2 separate regions of the Homo sapiens genome follow, and region 2 is linked to region 1. Evidence: fine-mapped expression QTL. A gene starts in region 1. The other region holds a variant in brackets. All regions are shown on one strand. Distances are from middle to middle.

The links. PIP is the estimated chance that this variant, and not a neighbour inherited with it, causes the effect.
Region 2: its variant is fine-mapped to the expression of FCGBP in iPS cells (PhLiPS, PIP 0.95).

The regions. Positions count from the first base shown.
Region 1 is chr19:39,929,174-39,940,947 of GRCh38, forward strand. FCGBP (Fc gamma binding protein) reads right to left here and starts at 5,461. Exons shown (of 36, transcript NM_003890.3): 1 at 5,391-5,461. The coding sequence starts at 5,445.
Region 2 is chr19:39,879,350-39,891,123 of GRCh38, forward strand. It overlaps FCGBP (Fc gamma binding protein), which reads right to left. Exons shown (of 36, transcript NM_003890.3): 23 at 10,130-10,722; 24 at 6,642-7,236; 25 at 6,324-6,523; 26 at 3,956-4,097; 27 at 206-543. Among named protein-coding and RNA genes, the nearest start is that of FBL, 39 kb to the left of the region's middle. RefSeq lists an enhancer at 6,368-6,869. The variant C/G (reference allele first, on the strand shown) is at 7,209.

The DNA of each region.
Region 1 (11,774 bases):
GTATAGTTGCACATGCCTGTAGTCCCAGCTACTCGGGAGGCTGGGGCAAGAGAATCTCTTGAACCCAGGAGGTGGAGGTTGCAGTGAGCCAAGATCACACCACCACACTCCAGCCTGGATGACAGAGCAAGACTCTGTCTCAAAAAAAAAAACAACTTTGGCTGGGTGCAGTGGCTCAAGCCTGTAATCCCACCACTTTGGGAGGCTGAGCTGCACAGATGAAGAGGTCAAGAGATTGAGACCATCCTGACCAACGTGGTAAAACCTGTCTCTATTAAAAATACAAAAAAATAATTAGCCTGGCATGGTGGCAGACACCTGTAATCCCAGCTACTCGGGAGGTTGAGGCAGGAGAATCGCTTGAACCTGGGAGGCAGAGATGGTAGTGAGCTGAGATGGCACCGAGCTGAGATGGCACCATTGCACTCCAGCCTGGGCAACGAGAGCAAAACTCCATCTCAAAAAACAAAAAACAAAAAACAAAACAAAAAAAACAGAAAACCTAAAGACTTCATCAAGAAGCTATTAGAACTGATAAACAAATTCACTAAACTTGCAGGATACAAAATCAACATACAAAAATCAGTAGCATTTCTATATGCTTACAGCAAACAATCTGAAAAAAAAAAAGGAAAGTAATCCCATTTACAATAGCCACAAATAAAATAAAACACCTAGGAATAAACGAAAGAAATGAAAGATCTCTACAATGAAAACTATAAAACAGTAATGAAAGAAATGGAGGAGGACACACACCAAAAAAAATGGAAAGATATTCCATGTTCATGGATTGGAAGACACAATATTGTTAAAATGTCCATACTAACCAAAGCAATCTACCGATTCAATGCAATCTCTATAAAAATACCAGTGACATTCTTCACAGAAATAGAAGACTAATCCCAAAATTTGTGTGGAAACACAAAATACCCAGAATAGCTAACGCCATCCTGAGCATAAAGAACAAAACTGGAGGAATCACATTACCTGACTTCACATTATACTACAAAACTATAATAACCAAAACAGTGTGGTACTGGCATAAAAACAAACACATGGACCAGTGGAACAGAACATAGAACCCAGAAACAAATCCACCCACCTACAGTGAATTCATTTTTGACAAAGATCCCAAGAACATACATTGCATTTATTGAAGATAAATGGTACTGGGAAAACTGGATATCCATATGCAAAGAGTGAAACTAGACCCCTATCTCTCACCACATACAAAAATCAAATCAGAATGGATTAAAGACTTAAATCTAAGACCTCAGACTACGAAACTACTACAAGAAGACATTTGGGAAACTCTCCAGTTCATTAGTCTGGGCAAAAATTTATTAAGTAATACATCAAAAGCACAGGCAACCAAAGAAAAATGGACAAATGGGATCACATCAACCTAAAAAGCTTCTGCTCAGCAAAGGAAACAATCCACAAAGTGAAGACACAACTGACAGAATAAGAGAAAATATATACAACCCATCTTAGCTAAAGCAATTAGACAAGAGAAAGAAATAAAGGCATCCAAACTGGAAAAAAAAAAAAAAGAAGTCAAATTATCCTTGTTTGCAGATGATATAATCTGATATTTAAAAAAAACCTAAAGACGCCATCAAAAAGCTATTAGAACTGATAAACAAATTCACTAAATTTGCAGGATACAAAATCAACATACAAAAATCAGTAGCATTTCTAGATGGTACTGACAAGGGATTAATAACCAGAATATAAAAGGAGCTCAAACAACTCAATAGGAAAAAAATCAAATAATCTGATTTGTGTGTGTGTGTGTGTGTGTGTGTGTGTGTATGTGTGTGTGTTTGAGATGGGGTCTTACTCTGTCACCCCAGGCCGGACTGCAGTGGCACGATCTCAGCTAACTGCAACCTCCGCCTCCTGGGTTCAAGTGATTCTCTTGCCTCAGCCTTCCAAGTAGCTGGGATTACAGGCATGCGCCACCATGCTCGGCTAATTTTTGTACTTTTAGTAGAGACAGGGTTTCCCCATGCTGGCCAGGTTGGTCTCGAACTCCTGACCTCAAGTGATCCGCCTGCCTCGGCCTCCCAAAGTGCTGGGATTAGAGACGTGAGCCACCACGCCCGGATTAATCTGATTTTAAAATGGGCAAAAGATCTGAATAGACATTTCTCAAAGAAGACATACACATGGCCAGCAGGTATATCAAAAAATGCTCAACATCACTAATCATCAGAGAAACACAAATTAAAACCACAGTGAGATATCATCTCACTCGAGTTAAAATGGCTTTTATCCTAATGAAAGGCAGTAATGAATGCTGCTGAGCATGTGGAGAAAAGGGAACCCTGTTACCCTGTTGGTGGGAATGTAAATCAGTACAATCACTATCGATAATAATATGAAGGTTTCTCAGAAAACTAAAACTAGAACTACTGTATGATCCAGCAATTCCTTTCCTTCCAAGTCAGGAAGTCAGTATATGTAAGAGACATCTGCTCTCCCATGTTTATTGCAGCACTATTCCTAATAGCCAAGATACGGAATCAACCTAAGTGTCCATCAACAGATGAGTGGATAAAGGAAATTTGGTACATACAAACAATGGAGAATTATCCACCATAAAAAAGAATGAGATCACCCGGCACAGTGGCTCACACCTATAATCCCAGCACTTTGGGAGGCCAAGGCAGGTGGATCACTTGAGGTCAGGAGTTCAAGACGAGCCTGGCCAACATGGTGAAACCCTGTCTCTACCAAAACTACAAAAATTAGCCAGGAATGGTGGCATGTACCTGTAATCCCAGCTACTCGGGAGGCTGAGGCACGAGAATCACTTGAACCTGGGAGGCGGAGGTTGCAGTGAGCCAAGATCGCGCCACTGTACTCCAGCCTGGGCAACAGAGTGAGACTCGGTCTCAAAAAAAAAAAAAAAAAAGGAATGAGATCCTGTCATTTGCAACAACATGGATGGAACTGGAGGACATGATGTTAAGTGAAATAAGCCAGTATAGAAAGACAAATTTCACATGTTCTCACTCATAGATGGGAATTTAAAATTTTTAACTGATGAACTCATAGAAATAGAGAGTAAAATGATGGTTACGATGATTACCACAGGCTGGAAAGTGTAGCGGGGACTGGGGGATAAGTAGATATGGTTAATGGGTACAAAAATACAGTTAAACAGTTAGATAAAATAGATAAAATCTAGTATTTGGTAGCAGAACAGGATGACTATTGTTGACGATAATTTATGGTATATTTTAAAATAACTGAGAGTGGAATTGGAATGTTCCTAACACAAAGAAATGACAAATGCTTGAAGTGAGGGATGCCCTAGTTACCCTGATTTTATCATTACACACTGTATGCCTGTATCAAAATATCACAGGTACCCCATAAATGCAAACCCATAAAAATTAAAAATTTTAAAAATATATAAACTAGTAAAAAAAAAAAAAGTGGATTGTTGGTACTAGCTTTCACCTGTTATAATGAAAGAATGTGAGCTTTTTTAAATTGTAAGACCTTCCTGTTTTTCTTTTTTTTTTTCTTCTGAGATGGAGTCTCGCTCTGTCACCCAGGCTGGAGTGCAGTGGCACGATCTCGGCTCACCACAACCTCTGCCTCTCAGGTTCGAGTGATTCTACCACCTCAGCCTCCCGAGTACTGGGACTACAGGTGTGCGCCACCAGGCACAGTTAACTTTTGTATTTTTTCTTTTTTTTCTTTTGAAATGGAGTCTCACTCTGTTACCCAGGCTGGAGTGCAGTGGCGCGATCCTGGGTCACTGCAACCTCTGCCTCCCGGTTTCCACGCCCAGCTAATTTCTGTATTTTTAGTAGAGATGGGGTTTCACCCTGTTGGCCAGGCTGGTCTCAAATTCCTGACCTCAGGTGATCCACCTGCCTCGGTCTCCCAAAGTGCTGGGATTACAGGCGTAAGCCACCACGCCTGGCCGTTCTTTCTGTTTTTAAAGAGAATGTGGCTATCTGAATTTTCATGTGAAATCTCCAACCCACAATTGTTTTAAGCACTTTGGGGCTCAAGGTGGATGTACTCTGCTGCCAGTGTATGATTTCCATCTTTTTACAAACTGGAGTGCAGTGGCTTAAACACAACACACTGCAGCCTCAACCTCCTGGGCTCAAGGGATCCTCCTGTCTCAGCTTCTGGTATAGCTGGGACCACAGGCACGCACTGTGTGCCTGGCTCATTTTTTAATTTTTTTCTAGAGGCAGGGTCTCACTTTGTTGCCCAAGCTGGTCTTGAACTCCTGGGCTCAAGTGATCCTCCTGCATCAGCCTCCCGAAGTGCTGGGATTACAGACGTGACCAACTGTACCCAGCTGGTTTTTGTCTTAATAGGACTTGTGGGGGCCAGGCGCGGTGGCTCTTGCCTGTAATCCCAGCACTTTGGGAAGCCAACGCGGGTGGATCACTTGAGGTCGGGAGTTCATGAGCAGACTGACCAACGTGGTGAAATTCCATCTCTACTAAAAATGCAAAATTAGCCGGACATGGTGGCATGGGGCGCCTGTAATCCCAGCTACTAGGGAGGCTGAGGCAGGAGAATCGCTTGAACCCAGGAGGTGGAGGTTGCAATTAGCTGAGATCACACCATTGCACTCCAGTCTAGGCAACAAGAGTGAAACTCCATCTCAAATAATAATAATAATAATAATAATAATAATAATAATAATGGGACTTGGGGGTTTGTGAAAAGGGGATAAAGAGAAGAAGGGGATTATGGAAGGGTGAATGAATTGTCTCCTAGAAATAGATGGCAGTGGGGGCTTCTGACCACCCCCAACTAGGAAGAGCGTCCCTGGGGCTGAGGAGAGAGAGGTCTAAGGAATCTTGAAGAGAGTGTGGGGGCTATGGAATGACCACCTTCCATATAAAGGGGGCTTTGAAGGATATCCCAGGGGGCCAGGGGATCAGGAACAATGGACATTTCAAAAGTAACCTAGATGGATGCTGACTGGTGACGAGAGGGTCCTCATATCCCATCCTCCCCCCAGTACTTTGGCTTTATCCAAAATTTTAGTTCTGGACACATCCCTGGGAGAAGTGGGGACAACACCCTCCAAGAATGACTTTCGTGAAATTTTCCATCAACTTAGCAGAATGAGGCTCAGAGTCAAAACCTTAGTTGAGTTGCAGAAAACCAAGAAAGTTCTTGCACACTTGAGTTTGGGGACTAAGGTTTTTGCCTGTGCTCCCATCCAGAAAAGGGTGAGAATTGGTGAATTCTACCACATCCCCCTGCAGAGCCTAAGGGCCTCTCTCCTGTCTCAGCTAGCCTGGGGTGACATGTGGAGGAGGCACACATGGAAGGCGTGGACCCACGCAGAGTTCCCCAGATTGGAACAAGGACATGGAGAGGGTCTTGGTCTGACTTACCCCACAGGAGGGTTGCTCCAGCCCAGAGTATCCACCAGCTCCATAGGGCACCCATGGCTGCAGTAGGAAAAGAGAAAGGATCATAGAAGGCTGATCCACCGCCTCTGCTGGAGACTGTCCTGGGCAGAAGGGCCCACTCTCATGACAAGGGCCACCTGGGACCATGAAGGCTGAGGTGGGGAAAGAAGTCGGGCAGATTGGGCCAGGGGGTATGGATCCAAGGACCAGTGTGTGTGTATAGGGGAGGCTGGCTGTCCAGCGGGTCTGGAGGTGGGTTGGGGAGGGCAGAAGCCAGGGACGGGGTGGAGAGTTGGCTGTCTTGTGGGTCTAGGGGTAGGATGAGGAGGCCTACAGTCAGGGGCAAGAGTAGGGGACCTGCTGTCCCACTTCCAAAGGGGACCCCAGCCCTTCTCACCTGCAGGTCCCTGGAGCTGCAGGGCCAGCCCTGTGGCAGGGCTATATAGTGGAGTTTCTGGGCCACACCCTGGGCCACGTGCCAGGCAGATGATGCCAACTTCCTGGAGGAGGCTGCCATCCTCATGGCCAGATGAAATGGGAAACTGTGAAGGCCTGGGAAGGAGGGACAGTGATTCTGGATGCCTGGGTTCCAAGAAGGGAGTGAGGACAGCTGGTGGCCATTCCCTGGAAGCCTTCTGGAGAGTTTGGTCCTGGAAGGGTGGGGTCCCTGAGGGAGACAGCTGGGGAGCAGGCAGATGAGCACCTGGGTCCCTGGGTGGAGGTGGGGTAGGGTGGGGGTGTGGGCAGTGAGGGTGGGAGGTGGCATGTGGTCATATTTGCTGGCTTAGTGGCTAGGTTCCTTCCTTTGGCTCCTGCCAGGAACAACAGTGAGGGACCCATATCCGGGTCCTGGTTCCTTCTCAGTCCCCACAGGCTGGGGAGTCCCTAGCCACCCACATCCTGCTTCCAGACACCACTAGGGGCAGGTGTCTGGGATGGGCAGGAGTCTGAGGCTATGGAGTGGGACACAAGACCTCCACCGCAGCCCAGTGGGGCGTCTGCGGTTTCTCATCTGCAAAATGGGAACACCAAAACCAGCCTCTCTGGGCATCTTTACGTCCCAGAGATGTAAAAAAATTCTCAAGGACTGTAGAGCTGGGGGGCAGCCTCCTCTGGTGTGGGCGCAGGCCAGGCTGCAGGTGGGCACTGGGACTGAGGCGGTGTGTGAAGAAGGGACAATGGCCTCTGTTTCCTGGTTCCACACAGACACCCAGATTCTACTTCTGATCCCAGACACCTGCTCCTCAGTGGTGCTGGAAACAGGATATAGGTGGCCAGGGACTCCCCAGCCTGTGAGGACTGAGGAAGAGCCAGGACCTGTTGGTTTTGGAGTTTTTTTGTGTGTAGGGAGGGTTTGCTCTTAGCAGGGGCTAGCTGAACAGGTTTAGGGGACTCTGTGCCTCTCCATCACCCCAGAATTTGCCTGAGATGGGAGGTGGAGGTCTAGGTTGCACACAAGGAGCAGAAGAATGAGCTGAAAGTTGGGCTTTCTCAGCTGGAGTCAGCTCCTCTGAGGGGCTGGCCTGACCCATGCCCTGCCTGCCTTCTCCCTGACTCAGGATCTCATTGTTTGCTGGGGGAGTCTCCCCTGGGACCAGCAGCTGCAAAGCCTGGGTGCTCTCTTGGACCAACACCCTAGCAGCTGCTGCCCCTGGGGCTCCTCCTCTCTTATCACAGCAGCCTGGGCCTCTGGGAGGCCAGAGCGGGTGGGGGGCTTCTCTCTCCCTGGAGCTCCAACCAATCCCCACGCCCACCCAAGAAACGTTCCTGGAGGGAAAGATAAAGGCTAAGAGTTGACTGGGACATAAAGTCAACCAGGAGAATGAGGTGAGTAAATAGGAGACTGGCTAAAAGCCAGAGATAACAAGAAACAAGCAGGGGCAGGGGACCCACAGGAAGTGGAAGCTTTGGGAAAAGGATGCCTGGGTCCCTGAGGGGTCTAAAAGTTGGTGGAAGGGGCTGCTGGGTCCCTGAGACAGAGAAGGACTCGGAGGAGGAGACGTCGGGATTCCTAGGAGGAAACAGCAATTGCAAACCAAGATGTGAAAATTCTCTGTCTGAGGCCAGGCGCAGTGGCTCAGCTTATAATTCCAGCATTTTGGGAGGCTGAGGCAGGAGGATTGCTTAAGGCCATGAGTTTGAGACCAGCCTGGTTCAAGACCAACATAGTGAGACCCTGTATCTACAAAAAAATACAAAAATTAGCCAGGCACGGTGGTGCACGCTTGTAGTCCCAGCTACTTGGGAGGCTGAGGCAGGAGGATCACTTGAGGCCACAAGGTCAAGACCAGCCTGGGCAACATAGTGAGACCCTTTCTCTACAAAAAATATAAAAATAAACCGAGTGTGGTGGCATGCACCTGTAGTCTCCACCATTCAGGAGGCTAAGGTGGGAGGATTGCTTGATCCTAGGAGTCTGAGGCTGCAGCGAGCCGTGATCATGCCACTGCATTCTGGCCTGGGGAGAAAAAGAAAAAAGAAAATAAAATCCTCTGTGTGCCATATGCCTCTTGTAATTAGAGGCACTCAGAGACAAATGGGAGGTGAAGGGAAAGAATCAGGGTGAGTTTCATGGGTGTTTCTGGCCCTCAATTCTCTCTAAGCCTTGGGGTTTCCCCTGGTTGATCACAGAAAGAAGCTTCCTGCCTTCAAAATTCATCATCGCTCTCCACAGCCAGAGTCCCCAGAAATGGGGTGGTTGTGGTGGGAGATCTCACAAATTAATACTCTGTATGTGCCAATCCCCTTGGGTCTTCTTTCTCACTCCTTTTAAGGCCCAAGTGGTGTGTGTGTGGGTGTGTGTGTGGGTGTGTGTGTGTGTGTGTGTGTATGTGTGTGTGTACACCCCTGTGCTTTACCCTGTATTATATCAATTCTCAGGAAACCCTTTGGTGACCCGGGAAATAAACTCTGGGGACACTTCCTTATGGTCAGAGAAATCGCATCCATCCCTCCACTGGCAGCCTTGCTCTGAGCCCAAACAAGGGTATTTGTGTACCTGAGCCTTTCGGCCTCTTCCTGCTTATCTGCTTCCGTCTCCTTGCAGCATGGGCACTGGCTATACCATCCCAGACCCCTGGGCCCCTCTGACTAGTCTTGGCTTTATAGACTGGAGCACAGTGGAAGAGAATTTACTCTCTCCAGCTAAATTCAGGCTTGCGGGCAATTTCTAACTTAATTCCTTTACGCTCTGGATCCCACAATCCGACTTCCATAAGCACTGAACGTTTTGTTAAACTCTCCAATGACCCATTATTTGCCACTTGCCTCTAGTTCCTTCCCTCTAACATTTGACATTCACACTTCCTCTCTGCCTATAATAATTGAAATTCTATAGGAGATGTTCTCTGACCATAATGGAATCAGCTTGAAATGAATAACAGAAAAACAGGAAAATCTCCACTCACAAGGATATTGAGCAACTCACTTCTAAATAATCCATGGGCCAAAGAGGAAGTATCAAAAATACATAGAATTAAATGAAAATGAAAAGAAGATATTTCAAAATATGTGGGATATAGCTAAAGGGAAATTTATGGCATTAAATATTTACATTAGGAAAGAGGAAAGTTCTTAAACCAATATTCTAAGCTCTTCTTACACAATAAAGTAGTAAAAGACCAAAACAAACACAACGCAGAAGAAAGGAAATAATGAAGAGCAGAAATTAATAAAACTGAACATGAGAAAATCAATGAAACGAAAGAACTACTTCTTTGTTGTTGTTGTTGTTGCTAACAAGAGCAAGTCTTTGAATTTCCCAAATGTATTTGTGGATTTGTCTATTGTTGAATAGAGCATTCTATAAATATCAATTAGATCCTGTTGATTGATGCTGTTATTCAGTTCTTTGATATTCTCACATATTTTATCCTGGTAGTTCTATCAATTTGGTGAGACTGACGTTTTTAATTCTCCAACTATATTTGTGGACTTGTCTATTTCACCTTTCAGCTCTATCAGTTTTTGCTTCATGTACTTGAATCTCTGTTGTTTGGTACATATACCTTAGGATTGCAATGTCTTGGCAGAATGATCCTTTGTTTTTAGCAATGTTTTTCGCTCTGAAGGAAAGTATTTTCGTATTAATATAGTACTTCCTTCCTTTTAAAAATTTATATTTAAAATTATATATATATTTATTTATTTATTTATCTATTTATTTTTTAGACAGAGTCTCGCTCTGTTGCCCAAGCTGGAGTGCAAGGGCATGATCTCGGCTCACTGCAGCCTCTGCCTCCCAGGTTCACGCAATTCTCCTGCTTCAGCCTCCCAAGTAGCTGGGATTACAGGCACCTGTGACCACGCCTGGCTAATTTTTGTATTTTTGGTAGATACGGGGTTTCACCATGTTGACCAGGCTGGTCTTGAACTCCTGACCTCAAGTGATCTATCTGCCTTGGCCTCCCAAAGTGCTGGGATTACAGGGGTGAGCCACTGCACCCAGCCTAAAATTTATATTTATAATAACATAAATTAATAAAATTAATATATATTTCTATTCTTTTATTTTCAACCTACCTATGTTGTTATATTTGGAGTAAAGTTTTTTGGAGACAGTATCTAGTTGGATCATTTTTTAAATCCACTCTACCAATCTCTGGCCTTTTATTTCATGTAAGGAGATAGACTATTTACATTTAAAGTAGTTATTGATATGTTTGGACTTAAGATTAACATTTTAATATTCATTTTCCATTTGTTCCATTTCTCATTCTTATTTTTTCTTGCATTCCTGTGAGTTACATGAGCATTTTTTAGCATTCCATTTTGATTCATATTATTTTCGAATACATAATTTGTAGAATTTTCTTAGCACTTGCTCTAGTACTACAATATACATATGTAACTGATTATAATCCAACTTATGAATATTTTACCACTTTGATTGAAGTGTTGAAACTTTACATCCATATAGATCCTTTTACCCTCCCACTTATACATATGCGTGTGTGTGTATACACATATAACTATTTTAAGTATTGTCTCTTCCTATAGACATCAGATAATACTATAATTTTTGCTTCAACCAACTACGATTTTTAAAAACTCATGAGAAGGGTAATCTGCTATAGTTATCACTATTTTTGTCCATTCTGCTGTTCTTCCTTCCTTTCTAAAGTTCTGAGCCTTTTCCTGTAATCATTTGGACTTTGGAGAACTTCCTTTAATCATTCTCTAAAAATAATTCTGCTGACGGCAAAGTCTTGTAGTCTTCCTTCATCTAAAAGCTTTTTATTTCTTCTTCATACCCCGTAGATAGTTTTGCTGCATATAAGATTCTCGGCTGGGCACAGTGGCTCACGCCTGTAATCCCAGCACTTTGGGGTGCTGAGGCGGGCAGATCACAAGGTCAGGAGTTCCAGACCAGCCTGGCCAACATGGTGAAACCCTGTCTCTAATAAAAGTACAAAAATTAGCCGGGCATGGTGGCGGGCGCCTGTAGTCCCAGCTACTTGGGAGGCTGAGGCAGGAGAATCACTGGGAGGTGGAGGTTGCAGTGAGCCAAAAGCACACCACTGCATTCCAGCCTGGAGGACAGAGCGAGACTGTCTCAAAAAAAAAAAAAAAAAGATTCTCAGCAGATAGTTATTTTCTTTCAGCACTTGAAGAGTATTGCTCCAGGCTTTCTTCTCCATGGTTTTTGATAAGAAATTTTTTGTCATTTGATCAGTGTTCCCTATAGACAATTTATAATTCCTCTCTAGCTGCTTCCAAGATAGTTTCATTGTTTGCCTTTGTTTTCATAAGTTAGTTATACTGTGTTTTGGCATGGAATCCGTCAGATTTATTCTGTTTAGCTTCTTGCATCTGTAGGTTTATGTCTTTTGCCAAATTTGGGAAGGTTTGGTCATTATTCTTCAAATATTTTTCAGCCCCACTTTCTTTTCTCCTTCTGTTAATCTGATAATACAAATGTTAGCTATTTTATAATTGTCCTGCAGGTTCTCTGAGCCCTTGTTAGTCATTTTCTGTTTCTCTTTTTTAAAGTTGATTGTCTCTCTGTTTTTTGGATTGGGTAATTTTTATTGTTCTATCTTCAAGTTCACTTCTTATTTCCTTTGTCATAGTTGCTCTGCTCTTGAGCCTTTCCAGTGAGTTTTTATTTTAGTTATTGTATTTTTCAGTTTTATCATTTTCATTTGATTCTTTAAGAACATACTTTCCATTTCTTTGGTGAGATTTTCTTTTCTTTCCCATCTTTGCAAGGAATTTCTACTTGCTTGGTGAAACATTTTTATGATGGCTACTTTAGATCTTTGTCAGATAATTCTAAAATCTTTCATCTCAGTGTTAGATTGTTGATTGGCTTTTCTCATTCAAGTTGTGATTTTTCTGGTTGTTCATATTATGTATGATTTTTAA
Region 2 (11,774 bases), 50 kb before region 1:
TGAGGTCCTATGTTAAAGCCCTTTGCCAGGGGCTAGGCTCATTTAATTCCCAGTAACAGGGTGACATTTTTGCTGCAATTATTCTTTTTGTTGACAGTTTGTTTCAGGCCCAGGTGAAGACAAAGAGCCTTGAGCTGCTAACTGTGGTCGTCAGGATCCCTCCTGCCCTCCCGGGGACCTCAGGGGACCATCCTGCCACACATACCCGGACTTTGCCGATCTCGTCCTTGTGGATGGAGATGTTGGTGCCGAGGGCAGCCACGGTGACGACTCTCACGTAGGACACAGCAGGGTTGCCCCGGTTCTGGTTCTTGGTGGTGACGGTGAAGGGTGTCAGGCCCTGGGTGCTGACCCCCGGGCAGCCAGTTGTTGCCAGCACATAGTTACAGGTGCCCTGGAAGTCAAACTTCCGGCCATCGAAGGAGTGGTAGTGTGGGTCGCCCCACAGCCAGCACGTGGCCTCATAGTTGGGCAGGCACACGCCCTGGCCACCCTGCTCCTTGCATGTCTCCTGTGGCCGGCATGTCACGCCGTGGCACGGGTCTGGGGACAGAAGAGGGAGGAGGACCTTGAGGGGCTGCCCATTGTAAAGCATGGCCGCTCCCTCCATATCTACCCAGTCTGTGCCAGGGATCTGAGGGTTACTGCAGGCAAGACCACATTCCAGAGTCCTCATGTCTAGGACCCACTTCCTATAGTTTGCTTTTATATTTTCTTTTGTTTTGTTGTTTTTTTGAGATGGAGTCTTTCTCTGTCACCCAGGCTGGAGAGCAATGGTACAATCTCGGCTCACTGCAACCTCTGCCTCCTGGGCTCCAGTGATTCTCCTGACTCAGCCTCCTGAGTGGCTGGGATTATAGGTGCCCACCAGCATGCTTGGCTGATTTTTGTATTTTTAGTAGAGACAGGGTTTCACCATGTTGGCCAGGCTGGTCTCGGGCTCCTGACATCAAGTGATCAGCCAACCTTGGCCTCCCAGAGTGTTGGGATTACAGGCATGAGCCATCATGCCCAGCCTGCTATTTTCAAGACCAGCCCCTGGGAGTCGCACACAGCTGACACTGAGGCCCCATGGGGGACTGTGTCTAAGTCTCGGCTGTCAAAGGTCCCATACCGGAGACCTGGGCCCCAGAGGTCTGTACAGCCAAGACCCAGTACCTAGAGTTCCCCTACCTCTGAGACTGAGGCCCTGCCATTTGCTGTGTGAGACTGAGATCCTGGAGTCCACGCACCTAAGACCAAGGCAAAGACCAAGGCTCTGGGTCTGTGTTTAAGGTGCACTTTCCATGGTGCCCTTGCTTGAGATTTCACCCTGTTCTTGTATTTTAAGTTTTATAGGAACCTCACCGTCTTCACTTACATAGGCTACGGCTGCTTTCACACCACAGTGGCAGAGTGAGTAGTTGTGATCCAGAAGGTATAGCCTGCAAGCTTAAACACTTACCATCTAGCCCTTTAGAGAAAAGGTGCACTTGACCCCAGTTGAGATCTGTGCCCCAGGGGTCCTTGTGTCTGCGATGCCAGCCCTGAGAGCATCCATGTCTGAGATCCCAGCCCCAGGGTTCTCTGTGTTCAAGACCTGGGCCCCAGGCCAGGTGTGGTGGCTCAGGCCTGTAATCCCAGCACTTTAAGAGGCTGAGGTGGGAGGATAGCTTGAGCCCTGGAGTTTGAGACTAGCCTGGGCAACATAGTAAGACCCCATTTCTACAGAAAGATTAATAAATTAGCCAGGCGTGGTGGTGTGTGCCTGTAGTCCCCCACTACTCGGGAGGCTGAGGCGGGAGGATTGTTTGAGCCCAGGAAATCGAGGCTGCAGTAAGCTACACTACACTCTAGCCTGGGCCACAGAGTGAGACCTTAGCTCAAAAAAAAAAAAAAGATCTAGGTCTCAGGGTCCCCCATGCCTGAGACCTCAGCCCCCTGGACATCTCCACATTTGATAGAAATTGGTCTCCAATTTCTCTAGGTCCTGGAGGCCTCTATGCCCAAGACTAGGGCCCTGGGGTGATCTTCTGGCAAGAGCCCAGTGCCAGGGTCTCAGCAGGATTTGAAATGTTTGAGACCCTAACTAGCTAAGTCTCATGGGCTGGGCTCCCTCAGTGCAAGACTCCATCCCTGAGGGTTGCTGTATTCAAGACAGTAGCCTTCATCGTGTCTCACTGCTGAGGCCCTGTCCTGGGGGGTTTCTGTGTCCGAGACCCTGTTCGTACAGTTACTACATCTGTGACCCCAGCTTGCGGAACCCCTGTGTGGGAGAGGCCAGCCTTCAAACGTCTCCTTCCTCCTGTGTCCATTATCAATGTACCGCCTCTCAGCTTCAAATACACCCACGGAGTTAAGCTTTGTCAACAGAGGGCGCCGGAGAGTCACTGCAGGAGGGAGGGTCTCCGGGTCTGGCTTCTAGCCAGTTTGGTCCTTTCAGCTCTGGCCAGGGTGCGGGGCCACATTCAGCGAGTGCCACTGGCCGCAGCTGGCTTCCCAGTGAGGGGTTCCCTTCTTGCCAAGTCCAGCCTGCAGAAACCTCTGTGCCACCCAGTGGGCTACAGCTGCAGTGAGACTGGACTCAGCCTTGGGGCTGATTCTCCCCTCCTTGAAGAGGAGGGACCAATTTCTCCCTTCCATGAGGCTTTTAACTTAGCCCTAGAGTGGCGGCTACTTCCTGTGTGTGCTTTGGTGGTATTCTTTAGTGCTCTCTTTACCGTTTCTTATTTCTGTTTATTTGTTTGTTTGTAAAGAGACAAGGTCTTGCTGTCTTGCCCACGCTAGAGAGCAGTGGTGCAATCATATAGCTCACTGCAGCCTCGAAATCCTGGGGTCAACTGATCCTCCTACCTCAGCATCCTAAATAGCTGGGACCACAGGCACGCATCACCACACCTGGCTAATTTTCAATTTTTTGTGGAGACAGGGGTCTCGCTATGTTGCCCAGGCTGGTCTCGAACTCCTGGCCTCAAGTGATCCTCCCAAAGTTCTGGGTGTGTGAGCCACGGCACCAGACCCTCTTTACCCTTAATAGTTAATCTCCTATTAATAAGTAAGTGATTCTTTAATTAAACTTTCCTCATTCAAATGGCCATACGCTTTCTGTCTCTCGACTAGATGCTGAGTGATATACCCCCCATTCCTGGGAGTCCCCATTATCCTGCTCATCAGCCCTGAGAGTCTTAGCCCCCACTCCTTGGTGCTGGAGCTCCCATTCTCTTATCCTTAGGGGGAGGAGAGTTCTCTGCTCTTCACCCTAAGAAATGAGCCCTGGGGGTGGCTGTGTCCCAGATTTAGTCTGGGGGATTCCCACATCAGAGACTATACCCCTAGAAATCCTGATCTTCCAGTTAAGAGGGGTCCCCATATCCAATGTCCTGCCTTGGTGAGGTCTCCGTGCGTGAGACTCAGAACTCTGCTCTCTGTCCCTGCCCCTGGGATCCCAATCTCTCCCCTGCCCTTTGGTGCTAGTGTCTGAACCCCAAGCCCGATCCCACACATCAGTGTTCCGCTCATGATGGAACCCTAGGCTGCTGCTCTTGTATTCTAAAGTCTTATAGGAACCTGACCTCTTCACTTACATAGTCTACGGCTGCTTTCATGCCACAGTGGCAGAGTGAGTAGCTGGAACGAGAACCTACAGCCTGCGAGCTTAAACATTTACCATGTAGCACATTAGAGCAAAGGCGCGCCTGTCCCTGCCTTATACCGAGGGTCTCTGACATCCACCCTGAGAAAACTATCTCTGAGGGTCCCCACAGCCTGGATTTTCCCTAAGGGTCCCTACCTCCCAAAGTAGGTGGCCCTGGCCCTGTGAAACCTGGTCTAGGGTTCCCCAGGTCTGCAACCTCAATCATTAGTCCTGTACACCTCCCGCCATGGACACCCCAGTTACACTACCCTCAGCCCCAGAGTCCCCATCCTCCATCCCTAGTCCCATCAGCCCCAGTCCCAGCCCAGCCCAGCCCAGCACCTTTGGTGACGCAGCTCAGGATGCCTCCGGAGGGCTGGCACACCTGCCCCGGCTTGCAGCTGTGTTCCTGGCACACCACGACTTTACCCACATGGCACGTGCACTGCTGCCGACAGTTGTCAATGAGGACTGTCTGCTCCGGCTGTGGGGAGAGAGGGAACGGCCATCAGGGACACCACGGGTGGGAGCCGACTCTCACATCTCTGGCGTTCTGGCACAGAGGGGTTTGGCAGACATCACAGACAAGGGACATCTCTCAGCAGGATGGCCCCTTGTCTGTGAAGCTGAGGCACAGCATGGCTTTGGGGCCATCATTCATTGGTTCATTCACTTTTCTTCATTTACTCATTCATTCCAAAATATCCACTCAACGTCTGCTGTAGGAGAAATGGTGTGACACAGTAACTAAGGGCAGATCGCCTGGGCTTGAAGCCCGTTTCTGCTGTTTCCAAAGTGTGTGACTCTGGGCAGTTACTTCACCTCTTTATGGCTCAGTTTCATGATCTGCAGATTGCAGATGATAGTAGCGCCTGCCTTTGGAAATATAACTGAGTTATATTCAGATAATAACCAAGTTATATTCAGATAATAACCAAGTTATATTCAGACATGTAAAATTTAGATAAAATGAAAAGGGTAGGCCGGGCGCGGTGGCACATGCTTGTAATCCCAGCACTTTGGGAAGCCGAGGCGGGTGGATCACGAGGTCAGAAGATTGAGACCATCCTGGCTAACACGGTGAAACCCCGTCTCTACTAAAAATACAAAAAATTAGTCGGGCGTGGTGGCGGGCGCCTATAGTCCCAGCTACTCGGGAGGCTGAGGCAGGAGAATGGTGTGAACTCGGGAGGCGGAGCTTGCAGTGAGGCAAAACTGCGCCACTGCACTCCAGCCTGAGTGACAGAGCGAGACCCCATCTCAAGGAAAAACAAAAACAAAAACAGAAAAGGGTTTCCTTTAAAACATTCAGATAGGAGAGATACGTGGGGTAGACATCAAACAAGATCGGGAGAATATGGCTTATTTTTGAAGCTAAGTGATGGGTAAGTACATGGACAGTCATTCCACTATTCTCTTAATTTTTGCATGTTTGAACGTTTTCAGAATAAAAAGTTTTTAGATATGTAATGCATATATAAAAATATGCACACATAGCACTTAAAACGGTACCAGATACATAGTAAGCACTATCTACACATTTTCTGTTATTATTAATATTATTTATGTGAGGAGAACAACAGAGAGAGGGTTCCACCCCTAGGAGAGCTCACAGTCCCCAAGGGAGATGGACATTAGACAAACACATGCTCCAGTCAAAGAAAAAGGACCTACGGGGACAGAGTGGGAGAGGGAAGTAGAGGGTGTTAGCAGCTGGTATAACACATGGAAATCTTGTCTTTGTGGTCAGAAAGGCTCCCTTCGTCCAGACCTGGAAGGCAAAGCCACAACTTGACCTGGGGAGTCAGGGGAGGGTTTAAAGCTTCAGAGCCCGTGGTCATATTTAGAAAGATCTTTACCACTGCCACGTGGAGGGTGGACCAGAGGGAGCAGAGGTAGGAGCTGGGAGGGACCCAGGTAGGAGAGGACCAGCTGGACCAAGGGAGGGCCATGGGGACGGGGAAAGGAGTGGGTACAAGAGACACTGAAGAGACTGAGTGGACTAGCTGTGGTGGCTCCCGCCTGTAATGCTCGCACTTTGGGAGGCCAAGGCAGGAGGATCACTTGAAGTCAGGAGTTCGAGAGCAGCCTGGCCAATATGGCAAAACTCCACCTCTACCAAAATACAAAAAAATTAACCGTGTGTGGTGGCACGTGCCTGTACTCCTAGCTACTCGGGAGGCCGAGACAAGAGAATTGCTTCAACCTGGGATGCTGAGGTTGCAGTGAGCTTGAACCCGAGAGGCGGAGGTTGCACTCCAGCCTGGGCAACAGAGCAAGACTATATCTTTAAAAAAAAAAAAAAAAGAGGCTCAGTGGGTCGGGCATGGTGGCTCATGCCATTAATCCCAGCACTTTGGGTGGCCAAGGCGGGACGATGGCTTGAGGCCTGGAGTTCACGACCAGCCTGAGCAACATAGTGAGACGCCCCCATCTCTATGTGTCCACAGGAAAATTAAAAATTCGCTGGGCTTGGTGGTGCGCACCTATAGTCCCAGGTACTTGGGAGGTGAGGTGAAGGATTGCTTGAGCCAAGGAATTTGGGGCTGCAGTGAACTATGATGGTACCACTGCACTCCAGCCTGGGTGACAAGAGTGAGACCCTGACTCTAAAAGAAATAAATAAGAGGCTAAGTAGACAGGCCGTGGGGCTGATGAACAGTGGGAGGGGTGAGACCCCATATTCTGCCCCAGATGACTAGGTTCCTACCTCATAGTAGACACCATTGTGGTAGCAGCCACATTGCTGGATGGGCACGCAGGCTTGGCCGTTGTAGAGGAAGCCGGAGTCACACTGGCAGCCCTCAGCACACCCATCTGGGCACTGCAGAGGGGCACTGAGAGCCGAGCAGCCCAGGGAGCAGGTGTCCGCACAGAGCTCGTAGTGACTGTTCTGAGGGCATTCCATGGCTGCAAGGAGGGGGTGCCGATCAGAGCCCTGGGGAGGGAGGGGCTGCAAAGCCCAGGGTCTACCCCTTCTGTGCCTCAAGCTCTCCCCTCCCTGCCCCTCCGGCTCTCCCTCACTCACGACAGAAAGTTTCATTCCTCCAGGGCTCCACGTGGCCTCCAGCCGCCTGGCAAGCACTCACGTAGGCATGGATGTTGCTGCAGAGAATGCTCAGGTTCCCACCACCCAGGCAGAGATCAAAGATGCAATCTTTCAAGGGACCCTGGGGATCCACCAGCTTGTGGCAGGAGGACAGTGGCCCTGTGGGGCTGGAGAGGAGCCCACAGAACTCCTCCTTCTGATACTTCTTCTCCAGCTCGGGAGGACACTTGTCGCTGGGGATACAGCCCGCGCTCCCCGGCGGGCAGGTGGGCGGCGGCAGGCAGGGAGAGTCGGGCACCACCTCCTCCCAGGAGTTGCCGAACTCATTGGCGTTGCCTGCCTGCGAGCCATTGGGCTTCTGGAAGTCATCCTTGGGGTCGCCGTTGTAGTTCCCACACAGGCCACACATCAGCTGGTAGTAGTTTCCAGGGACGGTGACCCGCACATAGTACACAAGGTCGTAGGCCACACGCAGGCCGAAGTCGGTCTCAATCACAACATCTGAACCATGCTGGGAGGCACGGATCTGGCCGTTGGCCAGCACCA[C/G]GGGCAGCTTCATGTCCACACCGTTCACCTGGGAGGGGAAGAGAGGCAGGCCACGCTTCAGAAAGTATACTTTGAGTGAGGGTGGGACCCTAGTTCAAGCCCATGCCTGATGCTGATCTTTGTGACCTCACCTCTTAGGCCCTCAGTTTCCTATTTATTAAATGGATATAATAACAGGGCCTGATAGTAGATTGAATGGTGGTCCCCAAAAGACATATTCACACAGAATCCCATAGCGTGAGCTTACTCGGAATAAAGTTCTTTGCAGATGTAATCAGGGTAATAATCTCAACATGAGATTATCCTGGATTAAATTGGGCCTTAAATCCAATGACTAGTATCCTTATAAGAGCCAGAAAGAAAAAGGCAAAGAGACACACAGAAAAGGCCACATGAAGATGAAGGCAGGGATTAGAATGGTGTTGTCACAAGCCCAGAGAACCTGGAGTCTGCAGAGCTGGAAAGGGAAAGGAAGATCCCCCAACCAGTGTCTTTGGAGGGGGTGCAGCCCTGCCCACACCTTGATGTTGAACTTCTGGCACCCAGGACTGTGGAACATACATTTCTAGTGTTTTAAGCCACCAAGCTCGTGGTAATTTGTTATGGCAGCCATGGGAAACGAATACAGGTCTCGATGAAGTAACAAGCCTCCAGCTATCCTTTGTTTACCGCTTGCTGCAGCCATTAATAAGCAATGATCGCCCCCGGAGCCACTTGCCCGAGTTCAAACAGTTTCCCCCTTACCCTCTTTGTGACCTTGGGCAAGTGAGTCACCTCTCCCTGTTTCTGTTTCCTCATCTATCAAGTGGGAATAAGGCGTTTGCCCCATGGAACTGTTGTCAGGATCACATAAATTAGTATCTGTAAAGTGCTGAGAAACGTGGCTGGCATAGCATGCATGCTTCAGGAGCATTTGCTGTTATTAGCAGCTATGAGTGGAAGTTTTTCTTCTGAAGAGTAAACAGAACCACAGGTTTTTGCTTTAAAGCATCAGCGAGTGGAAAGTTAGGCTAAATTCTTGGGGAAATGAACTTAAACCTATGAGCTGAGGACCAGTGGTTTCAGTTAAAGATTTACTAGGCTCCAACAAAGCCTGGTAAATCCACCCCTGGACAGGGCACAGTGGCTCATGTCTATAATCCCAGCACTTTGAGAGGCCAAGGCGGGAAGATCACTTGAGCCCAGGAGTTCAAGGTCAGCCTAAGCAATATATCGAGATCCTGTCTCTACAAAATAAAAAAGAAAACAAATTAACTGGGCATGGTGGTGCATGCCTGTACTCCCAGCCACTCAGGAGGCTGAAGTGGTAGGATTGCTTGAGAGCAGGAGTTTGAGGCTGCAGTGAGCTAGGATCACACCACTGCACTCCAGCCTTGGTGATAGAGCAAGACCCTGTCTCTAAAAAATAAATAAATACATCAACCCCTGATTAACATGCTTTCTTACCCTTCCTTATCACAGACAGTGCACACCGGATTCTTTTGGAAATGTGAAGAATCAGAGGAGAAGGCAGGAGAAAGACATGCTCCTGGCTGAGTCTCCTAAAAAGATGGTCAACTGCCACACTTCCCAAGCAGGGCTGGGCGGTGGGTAAGGGCAACTGACTTAGCCTTGCCTCAGTTTCCTCAGCTGTAAACTGCGGGGTAATAAGAGCTCCCACATCTGTAGGGAAGCTGGGGGTTTCAGTAAGAAGCAACTAACAAGAACATCAACAACTCCTGTGTATTTAGGCGCTGTATGTCAGGGGCTATTCTAGGAGCTTGGGAAACATTAGGGAATATATTCAATTAAGTCCTGCATGTCGGCCGGGCACAGTGGCTCATGCCTCTATTCCCAGCACTTTGGGAGGCTGAGGCCGGCAGATCACTGAGCTCAGGAGTTGGAGACCAGACTGGCCAACATGGTGAAACCCGTCCCCACTAAAAATACAAAAATTTCCTGGGCATAGTGTTGCACACCTGTAATCCCAGCTACTCTGGAGGCTGAGGCAGGAGAATCACTTGAACCAGGGAGGCAGAGGTTGCAGTGAGCCGAGATCGCGCCACTGCACTCCAGCCTGGGTGACAAAGCCAGACTCTGTGCCAAAAAAAAAAAAAAAAAAGTCACGCCTGTCCAGTTCGCCAGATTAAGTCAGTAATTGATCAGCACCTTCGCCAATACTGCCACTAGAAAAACAGCTGCGTGTCTGTTTCAGTGGGATCTCAGGGGAAACCCCTCCACTGTAACTCAGATGCCAGTCTCCACATGAGACCAAATCTTCTCAGTAAGAAAAGCACTGCAGAGCAGCACGGGGTTCAAGCTCCACCTTTGCTGGGGGACTATGGGCCAGTGATGGGCCATCCCACTCTGAAAAATAAAGCAAGTCATAGTGCCTGCAGTCCCTGTTGCAAGCATACAGACACCATGGACGTGAAGTGCCTGGCAGCCAAAAGGTGTGCAGTCAGCTGTATAGAAACTATAGCTGCTGTTGTTGTTGTTAAGGCGGTGAGAGTGTCACCCACAGATTGTCCTCTGTCCATGAAGCTTCTCAAACTCGGACTTTCTCAACCTCTGATGGCACCACGTCCTGCCAATAAGTGGCAGACTAGGGAGGTGAGTAGGGCAGAATCCAGGACTGAGGTGGAGAGAGGATGGAGTGGGAGGGAGGAGAGGGTGGGAGAAATTTGGAGAGAAAAGTCAATGCATGGAGGTAAAGAGAGGGTGGAGACTGAGGGACAGAGATGGGGGAGCAGCTCCCAAGTCCCTGATGACACCTCCCTCATTGGCTTCCCACTCGGTTCTGACTGGCATCTTCTGTCCTCAGAGACCCCAGGCCTCGCACATGCACTCTCATCTCTTGTGCCCCCAACTCCTGGGCTGAGCGCTGCCTGTGCCCCACCTACCCACAGGCCCCTCGCCCCCTGCTCCCCATCTGCTCTCACCGTGACCTTCCACTGTCTCTGCTCCAGCCGCAGGGTGAAGTTTGCCACCTGGACCGTGATCACCCTGGTCACACTGACTCGCCCATTACCCCAGGCCACGTTCTCCTGCAGGACGGCAAACCGATGCAGGCCAGGCCGGGTGCCGCAGGTCTGAGCCAGCACATACACGCAGGTGCCCATGAAGTCGAAGCGGTGGCCATCGAAGGTGGTGTAGTGGGGATCTCCCGACGCCTGGCAGGTGGTAGAGCCCACGGCCACGCAGCCCAAGCTGCCACCGGATGGCCGGCAGGTCTCATGCGGGCCGCAGCTGGAGGGCTCACAGGACACCTCACCGCCCTCCCGGCAGCGGCAAAGGGAATCACACCCAGGGCCAGGGTAGAAGGTCTGGCCCAGTGGGTAGTAGCGGTCATCGTGGAGGCAGCCACACTGGCCCACAGGTACACACGTGTCACCACTGAGCACGAAGCCAGCATCGCAGACACAGCCTTCACGGCAGGCCGACTCACAGCCCTCGGGTGCCGACAGGCTCGGGCAGCTCCCAGGACAGGAGTCACCGCAGAGCTCGTAGTGGCTGTGGGCAGGGCACTGGAAGGCTGTGGGGACAAGGTGGGCATCAGCCAGGTAGGTGTTTGAGTCGCAGTCTTGGGAGGCCCTGAGTGGGAAAACTGCTCAGGCCAACTTGGGCGTCTCTGGGCATGCACATGTGATCCAGGACATCTAACTGGGGGACTCAGCGTGGGACCTGGAATGGGAGGGGACATGCCCAGGTCTCTCTGACCAAATATTTCTGAAGATCAAATGACTCTGCTTGGCTGATATTTTTTTTTTTTTTTTTTTTGAGACAGGCTCTCACTCTATCTCACCCAGGCTGGAGTGCAGAGGCGCAATCACAGCTCGCTGCAGCCTCCACCTAAACCTCAAGCAATCCTCTGGCCTCAGCCTCCCGATTAGCTGGGACTACAGGAGTAAGCCACCACATCTGGCTGATTTATTATTATTTTCTGTAGAGATGGGGTCTCACTATGTAAGCCAGGCTTACCTGGGTGAAATGGATCACTTATATCTATTCGGGGTATGCAGGATCAGAACTGACTATGGGCATCTCAGCGTGTGAATGTGACTGGGGTGTGGGGCCACATGTATCTCAGGGTATGGCTCTGCCTGAGGGCACCCAGCTGTGGGTGTCTGACATGCAGCATCTCCCAGAGTCCTTCTGACATGGTCTGCCTAAGGCTGTGCCTGGGTGAAGTTGGCAGGATACCTGTGACCAGGAGACCTGCCTGAAGGGAACCGCCTAGGACTATCTAACTATGCATCTGTGTGGATCTGCCCAAGGCTATGCCAGGATCCTGTTTCTTTCTGAGTGTATCTGACCAGTCAGTATAAAATTTAAGCAGATATCACTGAAGGTATGCGACTAATTCCATGTGACTAGGTGTATTTCAGTGTGTGCAACAGACCTGGGCCCTCTGACCAGCTGAAACTCACTAGGTCTTCCTAACAAGGGGTACTTTGCTATGTGACAGAGGCAGGGTCAGCCATCCCAATCTACATGCCTTGGATACCTGAAAGCATGGATCACCAATCCCTAAGAGTGTCCTGGACCCCAGGTTTCTTTTCTTTCTTTTTTTTTTTCTGTTGTTTG